2 linked regions of the Homo sapiens genome follow. The protein of the gene in region 1 interacts with the protein of each later gene in a pairwise test. Each region holds a gene or a part of one and is shown on either strand. Other genes may lie near its edges. The genes, in order: GMPPB and TXNDC5.

The links.
Region 2: the proteins of GMPPB (region 1) and TXNDC5 interact in a two-hybrid assay, tested with the Homo sapiens proteins (2 studies listed by BioGRID and IntAct).

Annotation. Positions count from the first base shown.
Region 1 is NC_000003.12:49,714,992-49,728,076, reverse strand, and holds GMPPB (mannose-1-phosphate guanylyltransferase catalytic subunit beta), read left to right. Parts: upstream 1-4,125; 5' UTR 4,126-4,350; coding exon 4,351-4,479; intron 4,480-4,604; coding exon 4,605-4,685; intron 4,686-4,774; coding exon 4,775-4,823; intron 4,824-4,962; coding exon 4,963-5,105; intron 5,106-5,322; coding exon 5,323-5,481; intron 5,482-5,566; coding exon 5,567-5,645; intron 5,646-5,718; coding exon 5,719-5,846; intron 5,847-5,929; coding exon 5,930-6,112; coding exon of another isoform or gene 6,113-6,193; coding exon 6,194-6,325; 3' UTR 6,326-6,771; coding exon of another isoform or gene 6,772-6,892; 3' UTR 6,893-6,971; coding exon of another isoform or gene 6,972-7,057; 3' UTR 7,058-7,182; coding exon of another isoform or gene 7,183-7,277; 3' UTR 7,278-7,423; coding exon of another isoform or gene 7,424-7,566; 3' UTR 7,567-8,161; downstream 8,162-13,085. Other genes in the region: IP6K1 (inositol hexakisphosphate kinase 1), read left to right, coding at 422-955; AMIGO3 (amphoterin-induced protein 3 precursor), read left to right, coding at 8,612-10,126; E3 ubiquitin-protein ligase RNF123, read right to left, coding at 6,772-6,892, 6,972-7,057, 7,183-7,277, 7,424-7,566, 11,600-11,684, 11,900-11,975, 12,067-12,255, 12,363-12,502. UniProt on the Homo sapiens protein: Catalytic subunit of the GMPPA-GMPPB mannose-1-phosphate guanylyltransferase complex. Catalyzes the formation of GDP-mannose, an essential precursor of glycan moieties of glycoproteins and glycolipids. Can catalyze the reverse reaction in vitro.
Region 2 is NC_000006.12:7,894,199-7,909,196, reverse strand, and holds part of TXNDC5 (thioredoxin domain-containing protein 5 isoform 1 precursor), read left to right. Parts: intron 1-4,473; coding exon 4,474-4,623; intron 4,624-9,515; coding exon 9,516-9,621; intron 9,622-13,994; coding exon 13,995-14,091; intron 14,092-14,998. UniProt on the Homo sapiens protein: Protein disulfide isomerase of the endoplasmic reticulum lumen involved in the formation of disulfide bonds in proteins. Can reduce insulin disulfide bonds.

The sequences.
Region 1 (13,085 bases):
GTGCTGCCACTTGCATGATTTGGGTTGTGCTCATACCTGCCTGCCATCTATGCCAAGTGTGTCCTCCTGAGCCCCTCTGTCCTTACCTGTTGACTTTGATATGGGCCTCAGGTGCAGGACCACTGTGAGAGTCTGCTGCCTCGACATTGGGACAAATAAGACTCTTGCCTGTCAACAAGATGTTCCGATGTTGGAGGAGGGCTCCAAAGCTGGGGGCAGGGAACCCATAGGCCTGGTATTGCTTTCTCTTGGTTCTGCAATGGGAAAACCCAGGGTGAATGTGGCCTGCCTGGTTCCACTTAGATAGGTGAGCAGAAAAGCTCAGGTTGGTCAAAGTCCCTTCCAGACAGTGTTTGCCCAGGGCACTGTGAGCTCTTCAGACTTCCCTGGCACTCACCCTGTCTGCCTCCTGGGGTTTCAGGTGTACCAGCTGGACACAGGGCATTACCTCTGCAGGAACAAGTACTATGGCCGTGGGCTCTCCATTGAAGGCTTCCGCAATGCCCTCTATCAATATCTGCACAATGGCCTGGACCTGCGACGTGACCTGTTTGAGCCTATCCTGAGCAAACTGCGGGGCCTGAAAGCTGTGCTGGAGCGGCAGGCCTCTTACCGCTTCTACTCCAGTTCCCTGCTTGTCATCTATGATGGCAAGGAGTGCCGGGCTGAGTCCTGCCTGGACCGCCGGTCTGAGATGCGTCTCAAGCACCTGGACATGGTGCTCCCTGAGGTGGCGTCATCCTGTGGCCCCAGCACCAGCCCCAGCAACACCAGCCCCGAGGCGGGTCCCTCCTCTCAGCCCAAGGTGGATGTCCGCATGATTGACTTTGCACACAGCACATTCAAGGGCTTCCGGGATGACCCCACCGTGCATGATGGGCCAGACAGAGGCTACGTGTTTGGCCTGGAGAACCTCATCAGCATCATGGAACAGATGCGGGACGAGAACCAGTAGGCCCTGTTCTGGGCCCCCAGAACCCCTTCCTCTCCACTGCAGGCAGGGACCATTGTTCTGAACTTGCCGTGAGGACACACAGACTTGCTTTTAAAGGGTTATATTTCTCTTTGGTGTAAACTAAAAGAAATGTTTTTAGCTGTAGCCTGGAATCCATATATATAAAGTGAAGGAGGGCAGACCACACGCCCTCTCAGCCAGGCTCCTCAGCTTTGTGGCTCTGACTGGTGTGTCCAGGCTGCCTTAGGAAGGAAGAGGTGCCCCTGGTGGGCTTGGCAGCAGGGACAGGGTGCCCTTGGACATTGGTTTCTCTTGTCTAGATCTTTGAGATCTGTGGCTGCAGGGCCCTGCTGATTGTAAGGTAAAGCCCTGGGCTGGTGCAGGGCCCCTCCACGCCCACTCTTCCCTTGTTCCCCAGAAGTAGAGGGCTCTGGGTGCCCATTTCTTGGGGGCTTTCCAGTCTTATGCTGTGGGTGTCAGCTAGCTCTTTAATAGGTGCCCTCAGGGCACCACAGGGCTGACTGCACAAAGCTGGACCCATCCTTCGGTCTGACCTTAGCATGGGGCTAGATTAATGAAGCTGGGCTGAGGCCAACTTATGGCAGAGGGCGGCGCCTGGGTTCCCCAGGCACCTGTTGGCACGTGACAGGTTGGCACCTGTCCTATTCCTGAAACAGCCTCTCTCACCAAGTTCCCTTGCCTAAGAAGGCCACTCCCTCCCACCCCACTGAAGTGGGGGATAGTCGGTGTCCTAGCAGGCCTCAGGGCCTCTGGTGGCTCTGGCCCAGACAGTATTTGCAGTTCTTGTGCTATGGGTGGGAGTCTTCTTCCTCAAGTTTCGGCAGCTGTGCTGCTGCTGGATGGGCTGCTCCTCCCAGGGCTCAAGGGCTGTGGTCCGCTCAGGGTCTCATTTCCCCAGGCCAAGTTCAAGGCAGCAGCCCTTTGTGAGGCGCTCTTGGCCCTGGGCCTGGAGGGAGAACTTTAAGCTTTTTTGCTCACAGGGACGTGGTATGGGCCCTGGGTGCAGGTGCCCACATTCTGCTAATGAGAGCTTTGTCTGATCAGTCCTGGGTCCATCAGTTTGTCCATGTGTCCGGCTGCCAGCCCGTCCCTTGGGATCCTTCCCCTGGGGTGTAGCCTTGTTCATTAGTATATACTCATTCCTTCATGCTTTCCTCAGCAGAACACTTCCACTTCTGAGGTGAGCTTTTGCCCCATGCCCTTCCTCCACAGGTGTTGCCTTTTTATAAAGACCTGATAGCAGAATAAATTGGTGTTTCCCTGTTGACCCAGCACCATTTCTGTGGGCCTAGAATATGGCCCTCAACCCTTAGAGTGGGGCAGTGAGGGCTTGAGGAGTGACCCTTCCTTTCTCATGGTTTTAGTCATTTTGGCTGCCAGCCCTTAATGGCACAGATCTGCTGCTTCTAACAGATGGCCAGGAGGTGACACCGATTTCAGCCATTGCCAAGGTTAGCACCCTCTCCTTTGAGCCTAGGGCCACACTGTTCATTGTCACTTTAGGCAAGTGCCTGTTTGGCTTTAAAGGTAAGCCTGCCAGCTGTGAGAAGCCTTGGTAACTGATGGACTCATTTCCTGGTCCTTAAAGATGCAGCCTCTTAAGGGCTCCTTGATGGATGCCATCTCTCCTAGCCCCCAGCCCTGGTGCCACTGGTGGGCAGGTTCCCATTCTTTGGGGCTGGGAGGGACAGCTTGCCTGTTTCTGGTCACAAATTACAGTCTTCTCTCCTGTACCATTCTGTGGCTTCAGCCATGGGGGCAGTAGCCCTTCATTAGTGTAGATAGTCATTCCCTGGTAGGGTGGAGGGTAAGACATAGGGTCTGGAACTGTTTGGGACCTTTTGGGGATGTCCTGTGCCTCCCAGATTCCTCGATTCTGGGAGGAGAGGCTGCCGCATTCTGCTGCTCCTCACAGCGAGCAAAGCTGCACCCACTTACATTCAGTATTTTCCTGGCACTACAAAGAGTGGGAAGGCCTGGGATTTGCTGCTGCTCCCTTAGAGCAGGGCCCCTCTTTTCAGCACTTTGGACACCTGGAGACCCAGCCCTGTTATTTAATGGTAGTGGGCAAGTGTGTGTGCATACTGTCTGCCACTGCTTTCTCCCTGCCCCATGCCAGAGAGCCCTGTCCCTGCCAGGCCCAGCCTTCTTAGCCCCAACTTGGGAACAAAGTGCAACATGGGATCATGGGTTGGGGTGCTCAGGTGAGCCCTCTCTATAGTGCTTCCCTGGGCCAAGCTGACACCAGCCCCTGAGGGTGGGGTGGGACGGGTGGTGCTTAAAAGAGGAAGGGGACCAGTGTAGCAACTTGCCAGGGACCCCACCCCTCCCTCTCTGGGCCTGTGCAGTGAGCATGGGGATTCCCATCAAGGGGCCTGGCACCTGTGCTAGTTACGTAGCCGCTGCTCACGCGCTCACTCCTGACCACATGCACGTTCCCTAGATGCAGACTGCTTTGAACTTTAAAGCTGTACAATTTGGTTATGTTTGTGCTGACTTAAAATATATTTTAATGAGGAAAAAATAATGGAGAACCCTGGGAAGGACCTGGTTCTTTTGCTTCTCGGGGAACTGTAAGCCCTCGCGTTCTGGGAATCGCTCTCTGCTGCTCTTTCCTGGAAGCTAAGCCTGTCTCCACCGCCCGAGGCCTGCGCCGGTGGCTCCCGCCGCAGTTGCGTTTGCTTTGGACCTTGCGTGCGGGGGAGGGGGTGCTCGGTCCGAGCCCGCTCCTTTCTGTACACCTAGCGCTGCCCGCCCCGCTTGTGTCTGAGGTCGTGTATGTCAAAAATAAAGCCGCTAGAAACGGAGGCGAGTCTGTCTTTGTGAAAATCCCGTGGCCCGGGAGCCTTCCCTGGTCACCCTCGGGGCGAGGCCGGGGCCGTGGGGCGGGGCCGGCGGCTGCTGGACCGCGGCGAAGCAGGGAACAAGGCCTCGCCCTTGGCGCCAGTTCCGCCTTTGGATCCGCCAATGGCCAGCTGACCCGCGGGTCCCGGCCCGGGTCTCCATGGCAGCCCGGCGTACTCGGGCGCTCATTGGCTACGTCTGTCGCAGCGCTGCGCTCCAACGTTCCGACGCCGGCGGCCGTGCCACGTACGCGGCAGCCGATTGGCCCGCGGTGGTCGCGTCACTGCCCGCGCCGGGTCCGGCCTGAGTTCGGGGCCAGCAGCCGTCTACCCGGTGTCGCGTTCTGTGTTGTGGCGGCCCTGGATCCGGCGTCAGGGCGACCGGGCGGACGAGGTGGAGCCAGAGTCTGTCAGGCGGGTTGGTGAAGGGCGCGGGGCCGGGCACGGCGTTGGGAGTGCGCGGCAGGGACCGGCCAGGCGGGCTGCAGGCACCTCAGAGCCCGGGACACCCCCTCAACGTCCGCAGGCGCGATGAAGGCACTGATCTTAGTGGGGGGCTATGGGACGCGGCTACGGCCGCTGACGCTGAGCACCCCGAAGCCACTGGTGGACTTCTGCAATAAGCCCATCTTGCTGCACCAAGTGGAGGCGCTAGCCGCGGTAAGACCCTGGGTCGGGATCAGAGTCGCGTTCGGATCTGGCGGGACTAGGGATGGCCAGCGACTAGGGGTCAGGGGCTCCCGTACCTTCTGACTGAGCCCGCCCGTCGGCCTGCGTTCTGACAGGCAGGCGTGGACCACGTGATCCTGGCCGTGAGCTACATGTCGCAGGTGCTGGAGAAGGAAATGAAGGCACAGGAGCAGAGGGTGAGGCACAGACTCTTGGCCCTTATTCTCGGTCCCCGCCCAACTTCCCATCCTGGTAGAACCTGACTGGGGGGGCCTCTTCCTTCCAGCTGGGAATCCGAATCTCCATGTCCCATGAAGAGGAGCCTTTGGGGACAGGTCAGTAGAGGCAGAAAGGTCCCTTGGGGGAGGGTTTAAGGCCAGGAAAAGGGTAAGACCCAGCCTGGAGTGGGCCTGCTGAGCCTGAATCCAGGGACTCAGACCTCCAGCAAGGTGGTGACCTGTCCCCTTCCCCCAGCTGGGCCCCTGGCGCTGGCCCGTGACCTACTCTCTGAGACTGCAGACCCTTTCTTCGTCCTCAACAGTGACGTGATCTGCGATTTCCCCTTCCAAGCCATGGTGCAGTTCCACCGGCACCATGGCCAGGAGGGCTCCATCCTGGTAAGGCGCCAGGTCTTCTCTCTCTTGACACTTTCACCCTCCATGCCCAGCCTCCCATGCCCCCTAGCCTTCATCTGCCTTCGGATGTTATGGATACAGAGCTGTGCAGTATGTATCTTTAAGCACTTGGGGCAGAGTCTCTTGAGATCTGGAACGGCATGTGTATCAAGGCTTAGGAACACTGGACTAGGTCCGAGGTCCCCTTCCTTGCATTCAGGTGACCAAGGTGGAGGAACCCTCCAAGTACGGTGTGGTGGTGTGTGAGGCTGACACAGGCCGCATTCACCGGTTCGTGGAGAAGCCACAGGTGTTTGTGTCCAATAAGATCAACGCAGGCATGTACATCCTGAGCCCTGCAGTGCTGCAGCGCATCCAGGTGTGTAGGAGACAGCTGTTGGTGGGCTGGGGTGGGGCAGGCCATCACCGCCATGACCCTGCTCACAAGCTGCCCACTCCCACAGCTGCAGCCTACGTCCATTGAGAAGGAGGTCTTCCCCATTATGGCCAAGGAGGGGCAGCTATATGCCATGGAGTTACAGGGTGAGGCAGGGAGGCCACAGGGTGGGGGTGGTCTGTGGCTGGGCTGAGGCCCCTGATGCATCCCTCCCTACAGGCTTCTGGATGGACATTGGGCAGCCCAAGGACTTCCTCACTGGCATGTGCCTCTTCCTGCAGTCACTGAGGCAGAAGCAGCCTGAGCGGCTGTGCTCAGGCCCTGGCATTGTGGGCAACGTGCTGGTGGTGAGGCCCTTGCCCAGCCCATCATTAACCCCCTCAGTCTTGGGAGACAAGTGGCCCACTTGTATTTTTCCCACCGCTCTCAGGACCCAAGTGCCCGCATCGGCCAGAACTGCAGCATTGGCCCCAATGTGAGCCTGGGACCTGGCGTGGTGGTCGAAGATGGTGTGTGTATCCGGCGGTGCACGGTGCTGCGGGATGCCCGGATCCGTTCCCATTCCTGGCTTGAGTCCTGCATTGTGGGCTGGCGCTGCCGCGTGGGTCAGTGGGTAAGCCTGTGGGCTGGGCTGGGTGGGGAGAGGGGCGGGGAGTGTGCCTGCCTCCCTGACAAGGCCTATCCTCTCCTGGAGGTACGCATGGAGAACGTGACAGTGCTGGGTGAGGACGTCATAGTTAATGATGAGCTCTACCTCAACGGAGCCAGCGTGCTGCCCCACAAGTCTATTGGCGAGTCAGTGCCAGAGCCTCGTATCATCATGTGAGGGGATGCAGTGGGGCTGGCCGAGCCCCGGTTTTCCCATCAGCAAGGGGAGTGCTGGCCTGACACATCAGAAGACCCTGGACTTGTCATTATTTGTCTGGGGGGCACTGGGTGAAGCTGAAGCTGTTGGACACCTGCCTTCTCATGTGGACATCATCTGGCAGGATCCCTGCTGGGCACACCCCACAAACCCCACTCCCTCAAGAAGGGCCAGGGCCAGGGCTGTATGGAATAATAATTTAATGCTCACTGTGGCCCTGACTGAAAGTCAAGCTCAGGCACAATTAGGGCCATGGCTGGGCTCCCACCAATGAGGATACAGGCAGGCAAGGAGGTTGGATGTGGTGGTGTGGGATACAGGAGAAGGGCAAAGGGAGCTCATAAATAGGGCCCAGCCTGGCTCTGGGTTCAAAGGTGGAGGTTCCAGGATGGCACAGGCTGTGAGGGCTAGGCAGCTGAGGAGGTAGTACTCGTATTGGCTCCCTTCTCCCAGTCCTCTACAGACACGATGGTGGTTTTGCAGAAGAAGCAGTCCTTGTTGTTCATCAGGTGCTGGTTGATACAGGCTCTACAACAGGGGAGGGGATGAGGACTGCCCTGCATGTACCTACTGCTCTCCCCACCACCAAGCTGTGGGGCCCACTTACTTGCAGGACTTGTGGCCACAGGGCTGGAACACAGCAGAGATGGGGTGGGCATAGCAGATGGGGCAGAGGTCCTCCTCACTGGTGGGCTGCAGGGAGGAGAGTGAAGGGTGGGCTGGAGTTGGATGCCTGGCTATGTGGATGTCCGTTGTGCCTGTGTAGGAGTGCACACATATTCAAGTGGCATGGACCTGTGCACCGTGTTCCCACTCACCAGGGAGGCAGCTGCTGCCTGGGCAGATGCAGAGGTCAGGTGCGCCAGCATCTGTTCCACTTGGGCCAGCTCATCGGCACTGATATAATCCGCATCTGGGGAGTGGTAGGTAGTGTCAAGTCAGAGGTAGCTGAGGATGTGATGCCTCTTGAATATTCCCAGCCTAGGACTTTGCTGTTCTTAAGGCTCCTGACCCGACCCAGCCCCAGATTTCCCTGACCTGCCCCACCAGCCCACTCACAGCTCTGCAGGGAGAAGCGCTTCCGGTCAGGGGCTGGCAGAGCAGTGCCAGGTGCTGGGGGCTCTGGCTGTCCCAGGAGATAGCATATTGAGCGTAGCTGGAAGCAGGGATCTGCCAGGAGCACTGATGTGGCTTGCTCTCTCCTAGGTAGGGGAGGGTGCAAGGGCAGTCAGAAGGCTTGGGGCCTGGCTAAAAGTCTCTCTTGGGATTGCCAATGAGGAGTGCCATGGCTCGTACATGATCACCCCCCCTGCATCCTTTCCGTCTCCCTGCTTCCCAAACCCCAAGTCCTGTATTCTAGTAAGGTGCCACACAGCCTGTTTTTTTTTTTTTTTTCTTGAGACGAGTCTCGCTCTGTTGCCCAGGCTGGAGTGCGATGGCACGATCTCGGCTCACTGCAACCTCCACCTCCCGGGTTCAAGTGATTCTCCTGCTTTAGCCTCCCGAGTAGCTGGAATTGCAGACGCCCACCACCACGCCCGGCTAATTGTTGTATTTTTAGTAGAGACAGGGTTTCACCAGGTTGGCCAGGCTGGTCTCGAATTCCTGACCTCAGGTGATCCACCTGCCTTGGCTTCCCAAAGTGCTGGGATTACAGGCGTGAGCCACCGCGCCCGGCCTGGGGTACCACTTTAAGAAGGCTCAGGCGAACCACCTTAAGATAGTGAGAGTCTGCCTGCCCCATAATATTATCAGTCCTTCAAAGTCACTTCAAATAAACACTAACAGCAGCTTGGAGACATTCTTCCAGACTCCCCCTTTTACTCCCCGAGGAAAAACGAGCGGCGGAGAGCTGCCAGCCAAAGGCTGACGGGGACTTTGGGGTTGGCCTTGCTCCCCATCTGGCGGTCATGCGGGGCCATTGGGCACAAAGGGATGTAGCCGCCCCGCCTCCTCAAACGGGAACCAATAGGAGCCCGGGCCCCGCCCCTGGGGGGAGTATTTAGGAGCCGATCAGGAACTCGCTTGGAGAGGGCTAGCGAAGCCGAAGGGAGCGCGGCTAAGAGTGCCGCACCGCCTCACAACCTGGGAACCGGAGAGTAGGGGCCGTCGGCTGGCAAGAACCCGCCGTGCCTCCTCGGCAAGGGCCATCCGGTGCCACCCATGTCGCACTAGAGCAGAAGAGGGTGAGTCCTGGAACTGCAACCTGCACAGAGCTGCTCTGTACTGTCCCTGGTGGTCGCCGCCATGACCTGGTTGGTGCTGCTGGGGACACTGCTCTGCATGCTGCGCGTTGGGTTAGGCACCCCGGACTCCGAGGGTTTCCCGCCCCGTGCGCTCCACAACTGCCCCTACAAATGTATCTGCGCTGCCGACCTGCTAAGCTGCACTGGCCTAGGGCTGCAGGACGTGCCAGCCGAGTTACCTGCCGCTACTGCGGACCTCGACCTGAGCCACAACGCGCTCCAGCGCCTGCGCCCCGGCTGGTTGGCGCCCCTCTTCCAGCTGCGCGCCCTGCACCTAGACCACAACGAACTAGATGCGCTGGGTCGCGGCGTCTTCGTCAACGCCAGCGGCCTGAGGCTGCTCGATCTATCATCTAACACGTTGCGGGCGCTTGGCCGCCACGACCTCGACGGGCTGGGGGCGCTGGAGAAGCTGCTTCTGTTCAATAACCGCTTGGTGCACTTGGACGAGCATGCCTTCCACGGCCTGCGCGCGCTCAGCCATCTCTACCTGGGCTGCAACGAACTCGCCTCGTTCTCCTTCGACCACCTGCACGGTCTGAGCGCCACCCACCTGCTTACTCTGGACCTCTCCTCCAACCGGCTGGGACACATCTCCGTACCTGAGCTGGCCGCGCTGCCGGCCTTCCTCAAGAACGGCCTCTACTTGCACAACAACCCTTTGCCTTGCGACTGCCGCCTCTACCACCTGCTACAGCGCTGGCACCAGCGGGGCCTGAGCGCCGTGCGCGACTTTGCGCGCGAGTACGTATGCTTGGCCTTCAAGGTACCCGCGTCCCGCGTGCGCTTCTTCCAGCACAGCCGCGTCTTTGAGAACTGCTCGTCGGCCCCAGCTCTTGGCCTAGAGCGGCCGGAAGAGCACCTGTACGCGCTGGTGGGTCGGTCCCTGAGGCTTTACTGCAACACCAGCGTCCCGGCCATGCGCATTGCCTGGGTTTCGCCGCAGCAGGAGCTTCTCAGGGCGCCAGGATCCCGCGATGGCAGCATCGCGGTGCTGGCCGACGGCAGCTTGGCCATAGGCAACGTACAGGAGCAGCATGCGGGACTCTTCGTGTGCCTGGCCACTGGGCCCCGCCTGCACCACAACCAGACGCACGAGTACAACGTGAGCGTGCACTTTCCGCGCCCAGAGCCCGAGGCTTTCAACACAGGCTTCACCACACTGCTGGGCTGTGCCGTGGGCCTTGTGCTCGTGCTGCTCTACCTGTTCGCCCCACCCTGCCGCTGCTGCCGCCGTGCCTGCCGCTGCCGCCGCTGGCCCCAAACACCCAGCCCGCTCCAAGAGCTGAGCGCACAGTCCTCAGTACTCAGCACCACACCGCCAGACGCACCCAGCCGCAAGGCCAGCGTCCACAAGCACGTAGTCTTTCTGGAGCCAGGCCGGAGGGGCCTCAATGGCCGCGTGCAGCTGGCAGTAGCTGAGGAATTCGATCTCTACAACCCTGGAGGCCTGCAGCTGAAGGCTGGCTCTGAGTCCGCCAGCTCCATAGGCTCCGAGGGTCCCATGACAACCTAGACTGCCCAGGGCTCCCCCACCCAGGCCCCCACCCTCTTGCTGCTCGCCCTGCTCCCTGCTTCGGTCCAGAGAACTGGCAGATACTGGTGGGAAGCACTGTGCCTGGCCCCCCAGCTTCCTGTATGGGCCTCGAAACACAATGGGCCTTCTCGCTCACTGGTAGAGACAGGGGTTGTGGTCCCCAACCTGCCTTCTGCTCTGCCCCTGCACAGGACCCAAAGGCCCCAGGCCCTGCAAGGTGTGCTAGTTCCTGCTTTCCCGCGGACTTCCTAGTGCCCAAATGCCCTGTGAGGCTGAGAGACCCAGGCCCCTGTGGCTTTCAACACAGCACAGCTGTGGAAGTGGCTGTGTTCTTCTACAGCCTGTGGAAGAACCCCTGTAGCAGAGCCTCCCGTCCACCCTCAGGGGCTGAGACAGCTCTCGAGGAGTGGTGCTCAAGAGCTGACGCAGGGCCACCTCCCCTTCCCAAGGGGGTGGGAGGGAGTGGGCCCACAGGGAAAAGAAGGCGGCTCTGAAGGAAGATCTCGCCCACACCCCAGGACAGAAAGAGGAAACAAGCCCGCCCTCTGGTGAAATGGGACTCCCTCCATCCACCAACACCCAACCTCCTGAAAGCTTCACAACTTCACGCAGAGTCCGGTGGGCAGGCACCAGGCAGGAAAGGCTCCTCAAGAGGTTCCTGGTGGTCTGGCCTAAGCCCCAGCCAGAGGCCCTGCTCTCTCTGGCCTGGGGCATCCACCCGTTGTTCTGAAGGCAGAGCCCATTCTGTGGGCTCACAAGACACAGTGAAGGGGATCATGGCCTGCACCCCTGCTTTTCAGCAGTAAAAAGCCCGAAAAGCCTGGCGAGCATGGCCGAGCTGGGAGGGCCGAGCCGGAACTCCACGTCCCTCGAGAGCAGGAGCCTCTTAAGGGCTGGCACTGGTCTCAGCCTAATGGCTGAGGCGGTACCCTGGCTTCATATGCATCTCACTGCTCCCACTGCAGGGGGGCAGGGAAGGGGGGTCTGGGAGCCCTTCATGTGTGGGGGCCGAGCTGGGGGCCCCCATGGCCATCCTGGACCTCGCTGCTCCAGAGTTTAATAAAGGTAGCACATGCTTATTGCTAGAGCCTTTGCAGACAATGGCGGTCCTCCGTGTGTTCAGCTCTCCTGGCGGCCTGGCCCTGTCCACCACAGGACGGCACACCCTCCGGAGTCCTGCCTCCCATGCCTGGCCTGAGGCATGGCCACAAGCCAGTGGCTCTGTGGGCCAGGGCCACCTGTCCTGCTGGGGTCCCAGATTCTCCTACTTAGAGCAGCTCCGTCTGCCCCCTATTTAGGCCGTTCACACCTCACCACCTTCCCTCTGCCTCAAAACCTGATGCTGAGGTCCATTTTCCAGATGAGGAAACTGAAGTACCAGGAGGCCCTGTCCAGCCCCTCCTCACCAGACACACCCAACTCCCACAGGGGCCCACGGTCCCCAACACTCACTCTGAGGCTGGGCCACGCACCAGGAGCTGCACCAGGATGCCCGTCACTGCCACCAGAATGGGATAGTGGTCCACGCTCTCTAGGCCTGAGGGGAAGGGGAGGAAAGAGATGAGCCACCCACATGCTCCTGCTTCAAGGGCTCCAGGCCTGCCCACTGCCCTCTCTACAGAAGGGTGAGCCGAGACTGCAGAGCACCAAGTCTGGCTGTCCGGGGGCAGAATGTGGAATCAGGCCTCACTGTTCCTAGCAGAGGAACCGAGGCCTGTAGTGTGTTGGGGTGCAGGGCATCTAGGTCCTCACCAGGCAGCCGTAGGGTGACCACACGATCAAACAGGTTCCTCTCAGCTGTCACCCGGTTCAGCACCTGGTTTAGCAGCTGTGAGGGGAGCAGGAGTCCATTGGTGGATGGGGAGCGTCATCAATGGGGCATCCCCAGGGTCCCACCCTTGTTGCCCAGATGGCCACACCTGTGCAAGACGCCGCAGCAGCATCTCAGAGGTAGGCCGGGTCCAGTCAAGGAATATCTCAGGCACCAGTGTGATAGTCATCTCCAAGACACGCAGCAGGCTGACCGAGAGGTCAAAGCAGGTGGCACATACCTTGAGCTGCCGGCTGTCCACAAAGTTCCGCTCCAGGCGCTCAGCAGCCTGCTGGATCTGAGCCACCAACACGTGGGCATGCAGTGGTCAGCACCTGGCTCTAGCCCAGGACCAGGCCTCATCCCTTGCACCACCCTAACCCACGAGGCCCCACCACAGCCCACCTCTTGGATCATGCCAATGAATTCAGAGAAGGCCCAGTTGAGCTGATTGAGGACGCTGTTGAGGAAGCTGGGTGCCACATCAGGACCCTGCTGTAGGAGGTCCGCCATGTGCTGCTGCAGCAGGGTGGAAGGGCAGGGCTCTGCAGGGGGACAGGAGGCGGCATCATCAGGGACTCCACTGCAGTGGCCTCTGCCTGTTTGCCTCTGTCCTCGCCCATTGAGGCTTTGGTATAAGGACAGAAAGATGGCTCCCTAGGAATGCTCAGGTCATGAAAGCAGGGGACAGAGGACAGCTGCCTTGGAGTTAGTTGGGACAGAATCTGTCCCCTCCTTCTACTAGGCAAGCCCCAGGCTGCAGCTGTGTCCAGCCCTGACACCACACCATCCACTCCAGGTCCAGAGCAGCCACACAGCCACAGCCTGACCCTCAGCAAGTTCTGGGTCGCACACCCTTCAGATAGGGTCAGACCTAAACAGGGCGGCTTAGATGCTTCCCCACCGGCACCAAGGCCAGCTCCTCCAAGAGCCTACTCTAAGCCCTGCTGCAAACCTGCTGTCCTCTACTGTCCTCTGCTGCCCTTGGCCTGGCCTTGGCATATGGCCGAGGTGGTGGGCACCAAGTCTGGGCTGGCAGGCAGCAGTAACCGGAGCCCTCAGCTGCAACGGGCCTGGCGCACCTCCCCACCAGCTTGATACAAATCAATAGTTCCCGCAGCAGCAGGA
Region 2 (14,998 bases), on another chromosome or scaffold:
CCTTTCAAACTGGGAGAAACGTTTTTCTCTTAACCTTGTATTCAGGCTATTACTGCGTTTCAGTTCATTTGGAGTTAAATCAACTTTTAGGGCCACTGTGGGTTTATTAACAATGTGTATATGAAGTACATTATGTTTCACATTCCTAAGAACCAACTGACTCGAATTTTTACAACTCCAATGGTTTAGAAATTACTTTGTAACATAAAACAATCAGGCAGTATTAACAGTTTCTCTTTGTTCGGGAGTATTCTCAGCAACTATTTCAATTAAGTGTACTACTTAATTGGAGCCTATTTCAGTGGAATACATCTGTCGATGGGTTTTCTTTTTTCTTTCTTCATTATTTATTTATTTTAGAGATGGGATCTTGCTCTGTTACCCAGCCTGAAACCAGTGGTACGCAGCCGCAGCTCACTGTAGCCTCTAACTCCTGGGCTCAAGTGATTCTCCTGCCTCAGCCTCTGAAGTAGCTGTGACTACAGGCGCAGGTCATCACACCCAGCTTATTTTGTTGTTGTTGTTTTTGTTGTAGTTGGTAGAAACAGGGTCTCGCTATGTTGCCGGGGCTGGTCTCAAACTCCTGGCCTCAATCAGTACTTCTGCCCTGGCCTCCCAAAGTACTGAGATTACAGGCATGAGCCATCGCATCCCATTCTTTACTTTTTTTTTTTTTTTAAAGAAAAACTGACATGCAGATGTAATAAGTCCCCACAGTGCCAAAGGAATTTTAAGTTTAGAATCTTTGCAATAAATACCAGCTAGTCCTGGGCTGAGTGAGAGAAAACTGGCACATCTGGGCACTTGGTATTAAGTAAATTCCTTTTCCATTATATGTGGCTTGTAGACATTTAGCTGGATGCTTCCAGAATAATTAGCTTTATGTTGTTACTTTTTTTTTTTTTTTTTTTTTTTGAGATGGAGTCTTGCTCTGTTGCCAGGCTGGAGTGCAGTAGCGCAATCTTGATTTACTGCAACCTCCACCTCCTGGGTTTAAGCGATTCTCCTGCCTCAGCCTCCTGAGAAGCTGGGACTACAGGTGCGTGCCACCACGCCCAGCTAATTTTTGTATTTTTAGTAGAGATGGGGTTTCACCATGTTGGCCAGGATTGTCTCGATCTCTTGACCTCGTGTTCTGCCCGCCTCTTCCTCCCAAAGTGCTGGGATTACAGGCGTAAGCCACCGCACCTGGCATATTTGTTGACTTCTTGATAGTCTACTACAAATACTTAAACAGAGATATGTGGGTTTCTATGATGGTGTTTAAGTTGGACTTTTAAGAGGGCCCTTTCAGAAAACTGCAGATACTGCAGTAGGGCTCACGAATAGGCTGCCAGGAAAGGAGGCTGAGTGGGCGGCGAGTCAAATGGGAGGTCAGCAGGGGCAAGATCAAGTAGGACCAACAATACCTGGCACAACACTTTGGTAAGTTGTAAGGCTGAGAGCAAGGTGGTGACTCTGGAGGGGTCTATGCAGGAGAGGGAAGGAGGTCCTGGAGTGGTGAGCTGAGCGTTTGGAGCTCAGATAGAAGACTCAGTGGACTCCCCCTCAACACACACATACCTTTTTCCAGTTTCAGCTGCCGTGGAGTGGTGAAAGCCCACGTGTGATTAAGGGGCTGGGGCCCCTGTAACAAAAACATCAATCTGTGTATTTTTGCCCTGCACTTGGCTTCTGCAGGGTTATCCTGCTGCTGTAGATTTTTTGCCAACATCAGGTCACAACTTCTGTATGGCCAGTTTGTGAGTCACCCTGAACCTGGTGACAGTGAGGTCAAGATTTGGACCAGGTAGCTTTGCTCTACTTCTTGGCCACAGGCTACCTTCTGAGTGCAGCTGCCTGTCTCAGAGTTGGGTGCTGTAGCCGCAGGGCCGACTAGATAGCACCTGTGGCCCCATCACAGCCAGGAGCAAGGGCACGCCCAACTTGGTGATGGCCCAGAATGGTCAGTTTTGATTTAGCGCACCACAAACTTATTTATTGTTTATTCTCATTCTTAATCTAATCTTGTGTTTTCTCAAAAAAAAAAAAGGGAAAAAAAAAGCAGTAGCAAAACAAAACCTTGTCAAGATTGCAGAGGAGTTCTAAAGTTCCAGAATGAGCATATCTGATCAAAGTCCCCTGAAGGTCAGAACTGCCCTTGACAGTCCCTTAGGAAGGTGCCTTGTTGGACACCGCCCCAGTCAGTCAGTCAGTCCCCACTGCCAGCGTTTCCTCCAGCATTAGAACTATCATGGCTTCTTTGGTTAAACACCAAATGGACTAGTTCTCAAACCTGTGCCTTTAGACAGCAGGGTCACACTTAATGTAGTCGGAGAGATGCTCATGCCATGAGAAGCATGTAGGAACCAAGGCCTGCTGAGGAACAAAAACCTCACATCTCCCAGCTTGCACACACTTCAGGGTTCTGTGGGAATTGCCTTTTTTTTTTTCTTGTTTCCTTCTCCCCCGCCACATAAACTCACTTTGTTGAATCTACAGAAGTTAAATCTGCATGTATAGTTTCATTGTGCTTTTTTTTTTGTATCTGAGTATCTCATAAAGCAGGGATTCTCTTAGCTGGCCAAGAAAGTGCTGTTTAGGGAAGACACATTAACTTGAAGCAGACTTTTTCAGTGCTACCTTTAAGTCTGTTTTTCTTTTTTTTTTTTTTTTTTTTTTGAGATGGAGTCTTGCTCTATCGCCCAGGCTGGAGTGCAATAGCATGGTCTCGGCTCACTGCAACCTCCGCCTCCCGGGTTCAAGCGATTCTCCTGCCTCAGCCTCCTGAGTAGCTGAGATTACAGGCGTGTGCCACCATGCCCAGCTAATTTTTGTATTTTTAGTAGAGATGGGGCTTCACCTTGTTGGTCAGGCTGGTCTCGAACTCCTGACCTTGTGATCCGCTTGCTTCGGCTTCCCAAAGTGCTGGGATTATAGGTGTGAGCCACCACACCCGGCTTAAATCCTTTTTTTCTTAAGAGACAAAATCTCTGTCACCCAGGCTGGAGTGCAGTGGTGTGATCATAGCTCGCTGCAGCCTCAAACTTCTGGCCTCAAGTGATCCCTCTGCCTCAGCCTCCCAGGTAGCTAGGACTGCAGGTGTGTGCCACCACACCAGGCTAATTTTTTAAAATTTTTTGTAGATGGGGGTCTCACTGTGTTGCCCAGGCCAGTCTTGAACCCCTGGGCTCAAGCAGCTCTCCTGCCTTGGCCTCCCAAAGTGCTGGGATTACAGGCATGAGCCACTGCTACCGACTTAAATGCTTATTTTTGAGGTAATCTGTCAGAAAATAAAAGGAGATTTAACAGATTATTAAATTATTTTGAGGAAGAAGTCACAATTCTAAGCGTTGAGTGTTCATATAAGCAAGTGTGTTTAAAAAAAAAGCATTTTAAAAAGCGATACAGCAAAGTGGTTACATTGTAGGCATCAGTGTGTTCCTGCCATATTAAATAGCAAACAAACCCATGTGTCATAATGCTATGGGATTGTAGTTGAAACCTGGGATAAAGTTTCTAGGGTTGTCTCATTCAAAATTCGAGTATGGCACTGTAGACATACTGTCCAGAGAACACAGCAAGAGCTGTGGTCAGCTGTATGACTTAAGGTCTAGTGTTGGGAAAGATGCTGATATCCTCATGAAATGTGAAGCATGGCAAGAAGCCTAGTTAAGATACTATTTTAAATGATGGGTGATTTTAAAATATTTATACATAACTGAATTCATACAATGAATACTAAGAATAGACATTTGCTTACTTCAACCCTAGAAGTATAGGTGGCCACAAACTTTTTTTTTCCCCTTCTCATTGGAGAAAATTGCAGGTGATTAAATTTTGAGATTGCCTTATGTTTGTAGCCATTTGGTTATATAGTGGAGGAGACTTGACGAATAAAAGTAGCAGATACAGCAGGAAGTGCTAAGCTACTGTCCAAGGGAGGAGTAGAGAGGCTTTCCAGAAGGGCAGGAGAAGAGAATGGGTGCTGAACAGCCCGGGGAGTCAGGGCCAACTTGCTAGAGGAAGTGACACCCAAACTAAACCTGAAGGGCAGATAGATTTAGCTAGGTGGAGTTTAGGGACGAAGTGTCAGAGAGAATGTGTCCCAGGGCCAAGCCAAGCTATAGTCCTTTGGGAACACTGCAGATGCTGCAGTAGGGCTCAGGAGTAGGCCACAAGGGAAGGAGGGTGGACTCTGGGATAGAAGTCAAGCGGGAGGTCAGCAGGGCCAGAACAACTAGGATCCAGAACAACACTTTGCTAAGTTTAATACTGGAACAAGGCCAAGATTTCATGCTGAGAACAGGGCAGTGACTCTGGAGGGATGGGAGCAGGGGAGAGAGGTCCTGGAGTACTGGTCCAGGAGCTGCCATCTGCAATGGTGTAAAGAAAGGACTGAGAGCCCCATTGTCCCCTGGACAGAGCTGAAGTTGTGGGCCAGCTGCCCTGTGACCTGATACTCAATGTGCTTGTACTCTTGCCTTGTTCCAGGTGTGGACACTGCCAGCGGCTGCAGCCGACTTGGAATGACCTGGGAGACAAATACAACAGCATGGAAGATGCCAAAGTCTATGTGGCTAAAGTGGACTGCACGGCCCACTCCGACGTGTGCTCCGCCCAGGGGGTGCGAGGATACCCCACGTAAGTTGGAAGGAAGGGGGCACACTTCCTAGGTGGCTCCTGGCTACAAAGAAAGTCCTAGTTAAACTTTTGGTAAAGGTGTGAAGAGATACTAAATTTAAGCAGGCAGTCCCTGTCATTAGGGAGAAACTGCATTTAATGCTGTGTCTGTTTTAGATGGCTTTTATACTTGGATAACCTTTAATTCATCAGTGTTGGGTTTTCCTGTTTATAAGAGAATGTGTTTGCAAGAGAAAAATGACGGTCCCGCCATGCTAGATGTTCACCGGTACATTTTACACAGTGTGCATGGACTGTCATCAGTTTTGGCTTGCTTTTGCTGGTGACTTATTCGCAAACACCCTTCCTATAGTTCCTTCCCGTGTGACTCCCACAGGGCTGTTCCTGTTGGAAAGAAAGTATAGAGTCTGACAGACGATGATACTTACTTCCTTGACAGTTAAGAATTTTTTTGGTTATAAGAAATAGAAATTGAAATGTTCTCAATTCTAGAAATAGAATTGTTCTCTTATTAAACAGAAAGAAAGGACTATTTAAAAGGCTGTGGAGGAACCTCTGAGAGCCAGCTCCAGGGGCCTGGGGTCTGTTTCTCCTGCACCTCCCTTGAGATGACGGCTTTCCAGGCCTGTATCTCTGTTTGCACAGAAGGGCCCACCACTGACTGGCCCTGCTTGGCTGGAATGTTCGTTCCAGGAATAGTCACTGTGGCCAGGGAAACAGGAGCTTATAGCAAGACACATGCCCATTCACACCATGTGCCAAGTGTTGGAGGGAAAAGCAGTTCTTCAAAAAAGAGAAGAAGCTGTTTCTGAAGGAGGTGGAGGGATTGCCACGGTCACTTCCTTGCTGTTTGTTTCAATTGAGGAATGAAGTCAATTCTATACAATTTATTGCTTAATTGAATAATATAGGGGTCCATCAATAAAGCAAAAAATTGGAGCTTATATTCAAACCTGGGAGGCAGAAAAGTGGAGGGATCTCCAGGCTTGAACCTAGAAGTCGTAGTCAAATCCCAGCTCTACCATTTACTTACCACCCAGCTCTGACCTCATCACTTAACCTGTAAGTAAGGTGATCCCCCAAACATTGTTACAGGACTTACATGGAATGTGTGCAGACACCAATCTGAGCACACCCAATACATGTTAGGGTTTTCCCTACCATTTGGAAATGTGGGCGTTTCCACAAAGGACCCTGGAATTCTTGGTCTTTGGTGACTGCTTGCTAATGTAAGTGCCATAATTTGGGTTTACTTTAAATCAGATCAATGGAGATAAAATTGCTTACTATCTGTATCTACGTAAAAGCATTAACTATTCTATGCTTTATAGTATTGCATTGAAAGTATGGATCAAGAGCATCCCAAAGAAGCAGGTAGTGAGCAGAGATGAGGGCGAGGAGGTGAATGCTTACCTGTTGAGAAACTGTTGCTTTCAAAGTTCAGGGGCAGCAGGGGTGAGCTGGCTGTGGTGTCTTTCCTCTTAACCTGCTGACCATCTGTGGCCTGAGACTATGTGCATCACACACCATGCCACAGGGAAGGTGACACAGGACCTGTAATGGAGCTGAGAGTGGTATGTGTTATGGGGCTTCAGAGAAGGAAGTGAAGGCTTCCACCTCAGCCTGGCCATAACAGCTGTCAGCTGCAATATCAGCTACTCCATAGTTGGTATTCACCAAAAACCATCACAAATTTAAAAAGTCACAAATGTAAAAAGTCACAAATTTAAAAAGGCCCATGTTGGATCATGTGTTTAGATTTTTAATGAGAAGAGCTGGTCTCCCCAAGTAAACCATGGCTGGTTTTGTGTTATTAAAAAGAACAAAAATGAACGTACACCACACTGAACACAGTTTGGGAAGGAACCTCTGTGACCATCACTGCCCTGCAGAAGCTCCAAGAACAGATTATTTTCCCCCCGAGAATGCAGGAGGTGGAATGTGCTGTGTGCAATGTGGTCGCACTGGGGCATCTGTAGATTGACTTGAGCGAGCTTTGACTCCTCTAAGACAAGTGCCCATCCCATAGAGTGGTTGTGAGGCCCGAGGCAGGTGACGACTGTACCTGCCTGAGTCCAGGCATGTGTCAGGACATGAGCTTTCACGTTATTCTTTCCTGGCAAGTGTAACTGGAGTAAAGGATTGGAGGGGCAGGGAGTTTGGGCTCCCACGCTCCCTAGAGATGGCTGGCTGTGCTCAGGAAAATGTTTTGAGGTCTTCCTGTTGGGCCAGTCATGAATCATTACAGCAGGGCAGGACTGACGGGGGGAACTACCTGTGTTAGTTTCCTAGGCTGCTGTAACAAAGTTCCACAAACCGGGTGGCCAGAAACAATAGAAATGTATTCTCTGCAGTCCTGGAGGCCAGAGGTCCTAAATCAAGGAGCCAGCAGGGTCATGCTCCCTCTGAAACCTGTAGGGGAATCCTCCCTTGCCTCGTCCTGGCTCCTGTTGGTTTCCTGGTCATCTTTGGCGTTCCTTGGCTTGTAGATGCATCACTGCCGTCCTCTGTCCTCACATGCCCTTCTCTCTCTGTGTGTGTGTGTCTCTCTGTGTCCAAACCCTTCTTACAAGGACACCAGTCATGCTAGATTGGGGCCCATCCTAGTGACCTCATTTTAACTTGAATATCTCTGTAAAGACCTTATTCTAAATAAGGTCACCTTCTGAGATTGATGGTTATGACTTACACAGATCTGTCTTGCAGGACACAGTTCAACTGATAACACTGTCTACGGTAGTAGAACTTTCATCATGCTGTTTGCCAAGGCAGTACCTACATGGGGATTTTCTCCCTGCAGTCTCCTTGAAAAAGGAGACTCAAATGCCCATGTGGAGGCTTGGTAATAGCGGAAATCTGGGGCAATACTTTGTTTGGGCTTGTACCCTGTGGCCCAGTCTCCATCACCTCCCTCACCCCTGTCGACAGTGAGAATTGAAGTCAGATGTCCCAAACTCACTGCAAGGTCTGGACCAGAAGTGTCCGCTCTGTCCCTGGGCTCTGTGAACTTACCGAGGAAGAATCTCAGACTTCCTGGGCAGGTTAGAACGATTATCAGTCCAACAACAAGAAGATGGTTTTTTTTAAATTATTTGTTTTGCAAATGAATAGCAAATTACAAAAAAATCATAGGCTAGGTCTTACTGTATTTTACTTTTAGCAAAGACACAAGTGTGACCGTCCCTGGTCCTTTCTGATGTCTTGAGGATCCACCCATTTCCCTTCCTGAAGAGCGTTAGCGGGAGGCAGAGCCGTGCAGGAAGCAGTTTCTGTTTCCAGGTGCGGAACACACCTTGTGGGAGCCTGGGGAGGTGCCAGGCTAGGTGAGGGCAATCATCTTTGATACCGCAGATGTTGCAGTTGCTTATCATGTTGAACTTCGTGACGTAGCCGGTGTACTGGCCAAATCTAGTTAAGTTTTGGCTGTTTTTTGTGGTTATGAGAGTCTGAGCTGCTGAGGAAGCTGGGTGTATATTCTGCACTGGAGACACATTAGGGACCCTACCTATGCCCCATCATACCATCTTAGGTTCTGGGTAAGGCCAGTATGCTGATACTAATTTCAAAGCCTAATCTAGCCATGTGACTTCATTTTAAGGAGAATTAGCCATTTTTTTTTGGACTGAATGTGTGTGTACCCCAGCATTCATAGGGGAAATCCTAATCCCCAATGCTGGCAATAGGAGGTGGGGCCTTTGAGAGGGAGCAGGTTATTAGGGTGGAGCTCTCATGAATAGGGTTGCATACCTTATGAAAGAGGCCCCAGAGAGTTCTGTTTCCCCTTTTGCCATGTGAGGGCACAGCAAGAAGACACCATCTGTGAACCAGAAAGCCCTCACCAGACACTGACTCTGCTGGCACCTTGATCTCAGACTTCCCAGTCTCTAGAGCTAGGCGAAATAGATTCTGTTGTTTCTAAGACACCCAATCTGTGGTCTTCTGTTACAGCCGTTGAACTAAGACACTATTCAAACCTTCATGTCAGATTTTACATATGTTGCCGTCTTACAATTCTGATACCGTACATTGGGCATTTACTCACAAAATCCACATACGCGCTGTAGAAGTGGCAGGGGTGTTTAGATGAGCAGGCTTGCTAACAAATGGTACTCTGTATTTCTTTTTTCTTCTATTGGTAGTCACATTTTTGCCTATCCTTGACACCTTCTATGAATTTTTATCTAGAGTATTAGAGCACGTTTTCCCGTGACTGCTGGAGGGATACAGGAACTGAGTGTTAATTTCATCCTCTGGTGATGTCTTTTGCTTATGGTTAAAGGACCTACTCCCGTATCCTCTCTGCAGATTCCTTCAGAGGCCAACATTTGTAGGAAAAAGAAAAGATTCCTTCTCTATGGGAAGGTGAATGGACAGCATCAGTCAATGTCAAGGATGTTCTTATAGCTGGAAACTTGAATTCTCACAGTAACTGGATATTCAGGCCTTGTAAGAGTTGAATACCTGCCAGGTGGCCTGGAAGAATACCTTAATTGCAAAACAACACCGTGTCTGCTCCAGTCCTAATTTGAACACAGACAACAACTGCTGAAGCCGGGAAAGCATAACAGTAGCTTGCAGGGAAGGCCCGAGGCTGCTGCAGAGGAGCACTGAGTACTGTAGCTTTTGAGGCCTCAGTCACAGCAGCGGGCTGGAAGTTTTCACCTCATTTTAGTTTTCCTTGAATAAAACCAGAAACTTCTGAAAGTTTAGGATTAACTGAATGTATTATCTCCTGGAACGTTATGTTTGTTTCCTTTTTATCAGAGAGGAGCAGATACATGCCTGGCTGCAGCCCCTTGACAGCTCATTTTCTGATTGTTTCACTAAATGAGTTTGCTCTCTGATAAGACAACTTTCTTTTTGCTCTGTCTAATCCTTTGTTATTCTTTCAGCTTAAAGCTTTTCAAGCCAGGCCAAGAAGCTGTGAAGTACCAGGGTCCTCGGGACTTCCAGACACTGGAAAACTGGATGCTGCAGACACTGAACGAGGAGCCAGTGGTGAGTGTCTACCTCCTTCCCTCCCTCCCTCCCTCCCTCCCTCTCTCCCTGCCTACATCTTTGGGGTAATATGTAACGGGGCAGAGGCCAGTTGAGGTTAATGATTAAGGCTGCCATTTTAAAGCAACTCTACTTTTTTTGGAGCTTATTGGTATTACAGGTAAAGATGAACTTTTACAGAAACTTTTTGGTGTGGAAATACCTAAATGTGCACAAAAGTCAAGAGAAGGCTAAACCCTGAGTTTCAGCAGTTACCACCATTTTGGTGTTTGTCTTCCCCACCACCCTGCGCCTTGTTTGGCTGTAGTCAGTCTTCAGGGAAGTCACTTGTGTGGCCTCACAGATAAGCACTTACTCTTTGTTAACACTGCCACCCTGCCACTGTCACAGGTAATACAGTTCACAACTGTACCCCAGCATCAGAGACTGACTCTGGACCACCTGGGGTCAGGGCTGGGCCCAGCCTAGAATCTCCTATCCAAGCCAGCACTGGAGCCTCCTCCCATCCCCCCGACCTTTGCCCTCCACCACCTGCAGCCCTCTGGCTCGGGCCTAGCCCGACAGCTGTACCCGTAGGGTGGATCCTTCCTTTTCTTCTCGGTGCTCAGTCCCCGAGTCTCTAATGGGCTTTGCTTATAACATCATTTTGTACCATTAATACTCTGTGTCTTAATGCACTTCCCTTACTAAGGCTAATATCAGGAGATTGTAGACTCTTAGAATATTATGTACTAAAAAGGATTTATAATCCTCCCCCTCCCCAGTTGATGTTGGAAGTCTTCACTTTTTTATAAATCATCATGATCATAAACCACTGGTTAAGTGTTCCTTTGTGGGTGGTGCCTTCTGATTAATGCCGAGTGCTCAGGTCCCTGGATGCCGGGTAGACCTGGTGGGTCATGCTGCTGTGTTGGAGAGGGACTGGAAAAACACTCGTGTTCCTACACTGTAGGATCCTGATGAGCTAGGAAGAGCATCTGAAGTCTTTGTAATTTCAATTTCAACAAATACCTAAGACTACCTTCTTGTATCAGCTAAGCGCCCACTGATTTGAAGGTGGTCTGTGGTGGTCCTTTTGGAGCTTTGCCGCTTACTGTTGCCAGTTTCCAGTGTGTCTGTGCGGCTCTTCCGCTCTGCCCCATCTTCTCTGATGACCTAATCAGAAACTTGGCTGCTGATTCAGTGCTTCCATCCCTCACCTGCAAAGACTCTCTCAACTCGGCTGGGTGTGGTGGCTCATGCCTGTAATCCTAGCACTTTGGGAGGCTGAGGCGGGTGGATCACCCAAGGTCAAGAGTTCAAGACCAGCCTGGCCAACATGGTGAAACGTCGTCTCTGCTAAAAATACAAAAATTAGCCAGGTGGTAGGTGCCTGTAATCCCAGCTACTTGGGAGGCTGAGGCAGGAGAATCACTTGAACCCAGGAGGCAGAGGTTGCAGTGAGGCGAGATCATGCCACTGCACTCCAGCCTATGCAACAGAGCAAAAACTATCGTGGAAAAAAAAAAAAAACTCTCTGAACTGTATGGTGGAGACTGTTGGTGTGTGATGTTATGTCGTTGAACCAGAGACTTACCTAACTTTAGCTAAAAGAACCACAGACCTCTCAGGAAATTTGCATCTTTGTCCTGGCAAGAAAGCTGAATGAGCAGGTGTGACTTTCATAGTTTTCAATTGGACATTGTTTCCTTTGTGAAAATATTCTCTTTGTGGGGACACATATATTGGATGGTAGCAAACCAATTTTAAGGAGGAGTTAATAGCCTCAAATAAATTTCACCAAAAAAGCCAGTCTTCTATGATGGCTTTATTCAAGAAACCAGCAGCCAGTATCAGGACGGCAGAAAGACCTCATCTCATGGCCCATTTCCCTTAGTGGAGGTGGCGGCCTCACCTGCAGGTTGGAAAGGGCTGAGAGGCTGCGTCCAGGCTCTGCAAGGGACTTTCTGTCTCCTCAGTGTGGGAGCAGGATGGCCGCGTGTAATCCCCCCATGCCACCCCAGAACCACAGTCACCAACTTGCCATATTTTAGTGTCTCCAGCAATAGCAGGCCCCAGATAATTGCCAGAAACAATGACAATGCGCCTTATTGTGGAAAAGTTTAAGTATATACACTTTATACTGCAAACCAGAATTCTCTTAGCTTTTTAAGTGAAAACTTTAAAAAAAGTTCTTTATCTGTATACCTAAGTAACTTAGTACATACATTTTTTAATATTCACGTGGGATAAATTTAGATTTTTTTAAGTGTTGTGGCAATATTCAAGAAACTCAAAAGACAATTTGTCACTTTGTACATTCTACTGCAATTTTTGTATTTCCATGTTTGCTTCTGTATTTTTTCTTGAACAGTTATACAAACATGTTTCATCTCATTAATGATTTTATATATTTATGTGGTCTTTATGTTGATCATGTCTTATATTATTTTATCATGTGGATTTGCCATAATTCAACTCTAATTCTGTCAGTGGATATTTAGGTTATTTATACCTTTTCCATCATCAGTAATGATGTAGGGAACAAGTTTATCTTTGTAAAGGACTTTCCACCCCCCCTTCTTTTGAGTGATATTTTTAGAATATAGTATTCCCAGACATAAAATTATAAGGCCAAGAATAAAAAAAAAGATCATTTTTATGGCTCTTGATGAATATAGCCAGGTTTCTTAAGCACCATATCAGCTTATGCTGCCACTGTAGGGCAAGACGTGACCTGTTTCTGGGATGCACTGTGGTGTTCCCATGCCGGGGGACTGCTCTGGAGTCTGCCAGGAACCCAGGAAGCAACTAGAGGCCCCGCATGTGCCATAAATGAACACTTCATACTGAAAGGCCCTTGAACATCTCATGGAGAGTGGCACACGGTATTTTATTTCACCTTATGTGCACCCATTGACTGTTCACTTAGCCATTCTTCCCTTGGGCATTGTTTTGTGTGGGTATTTAGCACTTTGAAAGTCTTGACGCGCTGGCAGCAGAAGGGAAACTTTGTGGTTCTTTATGATTCCAGCCCTGCACAGCTTTGAACTGTCAGCACCTTTAAAGCCTTTAACAACTTAGCTTGGATATTCTTTTTAATAGGAATATGAACCCCCAGATAAAAGCTGAGTAATATACACTTAATGTGTCTGCAGCAGAACACTGATTCCATTATCTTTCCCTCATTTCTGGTTACTTTGGTTGGAAGCCACAGCTGTACCTGGTCTGAAAAGTTGAGAAATGTAGGATTGTGACTAGACAGCTGCACACATTGCTGTCTGCTTGGGTCCTGGCAGAAGCATCTTTTGAAAAGCCCCTTTCCCCCTCTTTCTGTATGAGACTTAGTCATATGAATTACATTCTTTCTTGAAGGTGCAGCTTATGTTCATGCCATGGTTTTCTCTCTGTTGCCTTTCATTCACCTGCATTTTCCTTCTCATCACCTCCTTTTCTCTCTGATCAGTCTTCCACAGTTGTGTCTTCCTCACAGTTTTCCCTGTCATTTGTGTAAAGTAAGGATAACCAGGCCTTCCTGGTCCCTGAGTTTCTCATTCTCAGCTTTGTCCATTTTGCTACCCTCGTGTCTGTTTGTGTGTTTTTTGAGGAAGAGTCTCACTCTGTTGCCCAGGCAGGAGTGCAGTGGCATGTTCTCAGCTCACTGCAGCCTCCACCCCCTGGGATCAAGTGATCCTCCCACCTCAGCCTCCCAAGTAGCTGGGACCACAGGCGCACGTCACCATGCTCAGGTAAATAAAATTTTTTTTTTGTAGCGATGGGGTCTCACTCTGTTGCCTAGGCTGGTCTTGAACTGCTGGGCTCAAGCAGTCCTCTTGCCTCAGCCTCCCAAAATGCTAGGCTGTCACCTAGGCTGGTCTTGAACTGCTGGGCTCAAGCAGTCCTCTTGCCTCAGCCTCCCAAAATGCTAGGGTTACAGGCACGAGCCACTGCGCTGGGCACTCTGGTGTCTGCAAGTGCTGACCCCTTCAGAATACGTCCATTGGGCGTTGTATTTTGTATTCTTTGTGAAGTATCCAAGTACGTTTCAAAGAAGAGGACAGGGTATAGGGTAAGACTGTCCTTTGCATTGTCTGCTTTGTTTGGTTGGGTTTTGGGGTAGGGACAGCTATCACTTGGCTGCCCTGGAGACTCAGACCTAGAGCTTTCACTGAGGGTGAGGCTGACGAGGGGGCTTTTTGCTGAAGCTTCCAGAGGGCTTGACGAGATCAGTTCCTGACCTGGCCTCACTCAGCACAGCAGCATCGTACAAGGGTTCCAGGTTGTTGGGTGAGGGAGGCATCTGCAGGCGGTTCCCCACAGACACAGTCACCTCCTGGATGGTTTCCCTGTGTCTCCACTGACACACCCATGACTGTTTTATTTCCTCCTGTTAGACACCAGAGCCGGAAGTGGAACCGCCCAGTGCCCCCGAGCTCAAGCAAGGGCTGTATGAGCTCTCAGCAAGCAACTTTGAGCTGCACGTTGCACAAGGTAAGGGGGACGTCCTGATGCCAGCTTCAGAGAATCACTATTATTCCTTGGCGTGCTGGGCTTTTCCTTCCTGCTACTCAAGGGCTCTTAGATAGCAGCATCAGTGGCACTGACAAAGGGTCACTCTAGAGGAGCTGTTGGGACCGTTGTTCAGTGCACCTCCTCTAAAACATGAGTTCTCCTTTTGTCTGTGCCCTTATAGAAACGCCGAGTCTAATGCTAAGCACACGTGACCCGCACACTAGCTGGACAGTGCATCCTTGGCTAAGAGTGTTTATTGACAGACTCACCTCGCTTGATTGCTCTTTACTTTATTGCACTTTGGAGATACTGCATTTTTTTACGGATTGAGGATTTTGGCAGCCCAGCATCTGGCAGGTCTAGCGGTTTTTCCAGCAGCTTGTGCTTACTTTGTATCCCTCTGTCAGCATCTTTTTAGCAATAAAATATTTTTTAATTAAGGTACATTGTTTTTAAAGAAGTAATGCTGTAGCACATTTCATAGACTATAGTGTAAACATAACTTTGATATTCACTAGGGAACCAAAAAATTTGTGTGACTTGTTTTATTGTGATATTATCTTTATTGCAGTGGTCTGGAACCAAACCCACAGTATCTCGGAAGTATGCCTGTGTATTAATGATAATCATATGCTTAATGACCTCAGGCAGAAACAAAAGCTTCTCTCTGTCTAAACAGAATTTAGATTGGGCACAGTGGCTCATGCCTATCATCCCAGCACTTGGGGAGAACAAGGTGGGATGACTACTTGAGCCCAGGAGTTCGAGATCAGCCTAAGCAAGACCTTGTCTCTACAGAAGATTAAAAAAAAAAAAAAGGCTGGGTATGGTAAGCGCACTCCTGAAGCTGAGGTGGGAAGATCACTTGAGCCTGGAAGGTCAAGGC